Linked DNA regions of Homo sapiens: region 1 is linked to region 2. Evidence: fine-mapped expression QTL. A gene starts in region 2. The other region holds a variant in brackets. All regions are shown on one strand. Distances are from middle to middle.

What was found. PIP is the estimated chance that this variant, and not a neighbour inherited with it, causes the effect.
Region 1: its variant is fine-mapped to the expression of SH3PXD2B in whole blood (INTERVAL, PIP above 0.99).

The regions. Positions count from the first base shown.
Region 1 is chr5:172,421,140-172,424,043 of GRCh38, forward strand. SH3PXD2B (SH3 and PX domains 2B) reads right to left here. Exons shown (of 13, transcript NM_001017995.3): 2 at 1,277-1,357. Among named protein-coding and RNA genes, the nearest start is that of SH3PXD2B, 32 kb to the right of the region's middle. The variant C/T (reference allele first, on the strand shown) is at 1,519.
Region 2 is chr5:172,453,130-172,456,033 of GRCh38, forward strand. It overlaps SH3PXD2B (SH3 and PX domains 2B), which reads right to left and starts at 1,396. Exons shown (of 13, transcript NM_001017995.3): 1 at 1,149-1,396. The coding sequence starts at 1,223. RefSeq lists an enhancer at 362-883.

The DNA.
Region 1 (2,904 bases), 32 kb before region 2:
GGGAGAAGACACATGTTCAGAAAGCCGGGCAAGTTCCCAATGTCTCCCGAGGGTTTTCCAAATAACTCTGTTACATCCTATGAGGAGGAACCATGACTACCTCCCACACTTGCTGTTACACGCCATTAGTGACATCAAGAAGAAACTACTAACCCACTGGTTAGACTTGTTTTACCCTAATGGGGATGTGCTTATACCGAGCTGTTCACATTCTGCCTGGCTCCCTATAAGACTGGTAGTATACATGGTGTTCGTTCATTCATTCATTCATTCACCAAACACTGACTGGACATATACTGTGTGTTAGGCCTTGAATAAACTATTAAGGACAGACAGGAAGAGAAAGATGTGGTTCTGGCCCACAATAGTCACAGTCTAGGCAGGGAGACAGACAAGCAGACAGCTTCAATACAGAGAGACACACAGAGCTGTAGGGGCACAGAATGGGTGGCCCTCGCTGGCCAGGGAACAAAGGCAAGGTTTCCTAGGGGATGAGAGTCCTGAAGGGCAGAAGGGGTTACTGGAGCCATGAGTGAGCCGGGAAGGCACAGGAGTGTGTGGGGAGGGCAAAGGCCTGTGGAGAGAGGCCAAGGTGAGGCAGGAGATGCAGGTCTGTCTTCAGAGCTGAATGGCCCCAAAAGTCTAGACACACTCAACAAACCCAGCTCACCAGCAAACACGATTATTGTTTAAAACTTAAGTTCAAACACTGCATGCCAAAGCCATTTGGAAATGATTTCCAGATTACCCTCCATTCTGGAGCAGTTAACAGGCACCCTTTCTCTTATGGAGGAAATATGAAATATCAAAGCATAAAGCAACAAAGCACATTATTTGTGTCTCAAAAGTAATGGATGTCATTTTTTTTTTTTGAGATGGAGTTTTGCTCTTGTTGCCCAGGCTGGAGTGCAATGGCACGATCTCGGCTCACTGCAACCTCTGCCTCCCGGGTTCAAGCAATTCTCCTGCCTCAGCCTTCCGAGTAGCTGGGATTACAGGCACCCGTCACCGCACCTGGCTAATGTTTGTATTTTTCGTAGAGACGGGGTTTCACCATGTTGGCCGGGCTGGTCTCAAACTTCTAACCTCGAGTGATCCACCCACCTCCGCCTCCCAAAGTGCTGGGATTACAGGTGTGAGCCACCACGCCCAGCCATGGATGTCATTTTTAAGTCTGGGAAATTAAAAAAATTCTGGACTCTAAAGCTGTAGTGGAATGTAAGTCCAATTAAACTCTTTCCGATCCTGCAGCTCACCAGAGACCTCAAATCCTTACCTGGAGGTCAAAAAACTTGCTGTAGCGCCGGTAAATGGCCTCGGTGGAGCCGCTGGACCACGTGACCCGGATGATGTAGACCTGCGGGAGCAACAGAGGAGATGGGTGTTAACACCAGAAGGTGGTCTCCCAATCTCTGGGACCCAGGGGGAGCACAAGACTCAGAGTCAGAAAGACGTGGGTTTCAGCCTTAGCTCTGCCAATGACTGGCTGGACAAGTTGCTTGCTGTAAGACTCATCTC[C/T]CTCCTCAATAAAATGAGTGTAATAACCCCCAACAGAGTTGTGCAAAGGATGAATGACATCAAGTATGGGGATGCAGTGGCACCACATCAGCTCAGGAGAAGCTGCTGTTTTCGGCATTGCCAGGATTCCTCACTACCCGCTCAGTTCAGTGAGAGACAGGCTGGCTATCTTGCCAGTCATTCCTAAAACCTTGACTTTCATCAGGAGAAGTCACGGAGACGTGCAGCTCTTGGCCATCTTATATCTTCCACAGGCCAGCCCATCATGCTGTCTCCACCGACGAGGACCTAGGCCAAGTTATTTTTTCCCCGAGTCCCAGTTTCTCCTGTGAATGGGGCTAACAGCACCTGCTTCCTCTGCCTCCTCTGCCTCCTCTGCCTCCCAGGATAGATGTGAGGTGCTGATGAAATTAAGGATGAAGGACCATTTTATAAACCAGTGGGCTGTGCTTCCAACCTGTGTCACACGTCACGGCACGCACAGAAAACAATACATTGATAACAAGCCCGGGCAAACTGAGGTGACTATTAGAGGTCAGAGGTGCCTGGCTGGGGCCTTTGGTGGCCCCGGACACACCAGGTAGACACCTAAGGGCTAAGGGATCAGCATACCTGTGACCCATTCCTGGACTGCATAAACTATCTGTTGCTATAGGGTAGTTGTGACAATTAAAATATATGCACAAGTGAAAGCTGTTTGGAAACAAAGAAATGTCATAGAAACACAAGGCGCTCAGTGCTGTTAGAAGCCCTGGGGTTTCACAGGCAGTGTCCCTGTCCTCCATGAGGTGACGGTTAGAAGGAGAGACAATGCATACATAAGTGAAGATGACTGACTCCTGGAATCCTCCTTCCCTACCTTCAGCTCACCCACTTGGATACGGGGTTGGGGGGGGGGGCGCACATTCTCTGTTCATGGTGATTGGTTGAAGGGAGAACATGTGACTTGAGCTGGGCCAATCACAGCCAGTAGGAGTCTGTCCTGGGACTTTTTTGGTTTGGTTTCTTTTTGGAGAGGGAGTCTAGCTCTGTCACCCAGGCTGGAGTGCAGTGACACAATCTCGGCTCACTGCCTCCCGGGTTCAAGAGATTCTCGTGCTTTAGCCTCCCGAGTAGCTAGGATTACAGGCGAGCGCTACCGTGCCCGGCTAATTTTTGTATTTTTAGTAGAGACGGGGTTTTGTCATGTTGCTCAGGCTGGTCTCGAACTCTTGACCTCAAGTGATCCACCTATGTCGGCCTCCCAAAGTGTTGGGATTACATGCTTGAGCCACCGCGCCCGGCCCGCCCTGGGACTTTTGCTCCAACTCTGGAGAAAGCCAAGCTCTTCTCCTGAGGTTGACAGGCTGTCAAGATGTGGAGCTGCTGGGGGCTACCCATCCTCAC
Region 2 (2,904 bases):
AAGATCTGAAGACGACTTCCAGGGAGGCCAAGGAGCTTAATTTAGCCAGCCAACGCCCTTTTCTATTCATTGTTCTATACTTCTTTGTTAGGATTTTTTCCCTCCCTCTTACTCTTTTTCCCTTCCTGGTTAACTTCTCTGCAGCCAGGCTCCGCCACTGCCCACTTCTCACCGCCAGAGACACTATAGCCCCCTTCCCTGCTGTAATGAGGCCCTCCCCAAGGCCTCATGTGGGCCCATCACCCCACATCCCCTTTATCTCCACCTAGAACCTGCGAGGTGGTCCCAGGGCCTCCTGAATCTGCAGACGTGTCCCCTAGGTTGCTGCGGAAGCCACTTTCCACCTGCAGGTCACCGTCAGCCCCAGGCACCCCTGCTGGAGGGAGGGAAGCCCGAATGCAGCTCTATGTTCCAGGACCTGCAACCTCTGAGCCTCAGCCTTCCTATCTGCAAAACGACGCTACTGTCCCATTTTCTCAAGTCCTTGCCAGCTCCAAACAAGATTCCCATGTTCCAGAGGGAGATGCCAGGAGAAAACTTTCGTACATTTTAAAACAGAAGTTACTGGAGAGAGGGGGCAGGGGATGTTTTTAACCCTTTAAAGGCGTAGCCACTCAAATGATCCATTCCCAGAGATCTCCTCCATCGCCCAGGCCGGCTCTTGCCAAAGAACGGAGTCAAATTCGGCGAACCCTAGAGGGGCTACCTGTGGCTGGGGACTGCGGGTCTGCGCGCCTCTGGACAAGGAGGGGCAAGGCGGGCGGCCTGAGAACAGGCACTTCTGTCTCTCCCGCTTTCTGTCTCAGACCCCTCACCGGCTGGAGCCAGACTTTTCCACAGATGAGCAGGACGGGAGTTGGGGGGACACGGAGAAGACAGAAAGGGGTAGAGGAGCCGCAGGGAGGCGAGTAGGGGGGCGAGGCGGGAGGAAGGGATGGAGGGGGAGAACGAGGCAAAAGCGGGGAGGGGAGGGGAGGGAGGGAGGAGGAGTCGGGAGGGACCCGGGCAGCGCCGCCGCAGAGCCGAGGGGAGAGCAGGGGAGGAGGGGACGGGAAGCGCTGGAGGCAGAAGTTTTCCAAGCCGGGGGCCCTCGGTCGCCCCCGACGGGGCGCGGGCTCAAGGGGGCGTGGGGGCCGCGCCGCACTCACATAATGCTTGTTGGGCACCCGCCGCTTCTGCACGTCTAGCACCTTCACCTCCACGATGCTGCGCCGCGGCGGCATGGCCGCTCCTCCGCCCGCAGCGGGCCGAGCGCGGGTGCGGGTGGCGCGGGGTGCAGGGAGCGCTGGGGGCGCGCCGCCGCGGGCAGGGAACCTGGAGCTGAGCGCAATCGCAGCCGGGGCCGAGCACGAGCCGCCGCCGCCACCGCCGCCGCCCTTCGCTCGGCGCGCACTCCAGCCGGGCCCAGCCGCCGCCGCCCGCCCCCGGCCCGCCCCCCGCACCGCCCCCCGCACCGCCCCCCGCACCGCCCCCCGCGCCGCCGGCCCGCCCCCCTTAAAGGGCCCGGCCCCGACCCCCGCCCACCGCGCGCGAACCCCGCCGGCCACGTCCGGCCCCCGCCCGGCCTTTGTCCCGGTGCTGAGCCGCCGCGCCGGGGGAGGGGACTGGACTGACCCCGTCGCCCGTTCACTGATTGACGTATCGATTCATTCCAGCACTCTCGCTCCGGCAGCCGCCATCCACCGCCAGTTTGGAGAGCCGGACACCCGGGTTCGAATCCCGGCTTTGCCGCTTTTCCACTCTGTGCCCTCGGCAAGTTGCTTAACCTCTCTGGGTTGGGTCTCTTCGTCTATAATATGAGCCTAGTAGTACAAGCACCATGTTTGTCTTTTTGTGTCTGGCTTATTTCACTCGGCATAATGTCCTCAAGGCTCATCCATGTTGTAGCACGTGTCAGTAGTACCGCCTGCCTGCCGGTGCTGCGCCCGGGATTAAGTGCATGTGAAGCCATTCCGCAGTGCAGTCCATGGTATGAGTGCTGGCGTTCCTAAAGCCACCCCAAGCCCTGGTGATTCAGGAGGAGCAAGAGACCCGTGACCAGGTTCCCCCAGCCTCAGTCTGGGACATGGGGAGTGAGGGAGAGAAAAACTGCAACAAATGCGCATACGTGCAATGTAATTGCCATGGAAGCAACAAAAGGGGATAAAAGGGTGGTGACTATGTGTGAGGGGCAGCTGGGTGCTTGTTAGCAAGGCCATCGATTTCCAGTTGCGGAGCACTTAACTGCTCGCTGGGCCCCGTGGCCCCTGCTTTTCACAAATGCTGTCTTTGCATCCTCAGGCAGACTCTAGGAGGAAAAGGTGTTTTTACAGAGGACGGCCTCCAGACATTTGGACATTTCCAATGAGGCCTGAGGACCCTCTGACTTGGGAACTGTACTTCAGAAGAATGTGCCTTACAGGAATTACATCAGTGAAGGTCCAGAGTCAGGGAGCCGGTGGATGGAGCCCGTCACTGCCTGGCTCTAGGTGGATCTCACACGTTGAAGCTGCCGTGGCTGGGGCAGCTCCTCGTTTCTTCATCTAGTGCCTCCTAGCACTGGCTGGGCACTGAGTCACTTTCAGGAGATGTTGGCTGAATGAATGGATAAATGAATATATAATGCATGGATGGGAGGTTTAGGCTCCTGGCCAGTGTTTTCACAGCCAGTAAGTGGGGGCTCTTTTCAACAAACCGTACGACTCTTCTCCATGCCACGACAGAGCTACTTCCCACCCCGGTCCAGGATCAGCCTTTGGAAAAGGGTGGGCTTATCCAGGGTAGGACGGCTCTCAGCCTCGGCCAGGCCACGTGGATGATTTGGGCTGATTCACTTTGGATCCGCCCCTCCATTTGCTCCTCTGACTTCCTTGCCAGACTTTACCATCCTGCTCCAGCCCCAGAGGCTGGCCTGTGTGGATTTCA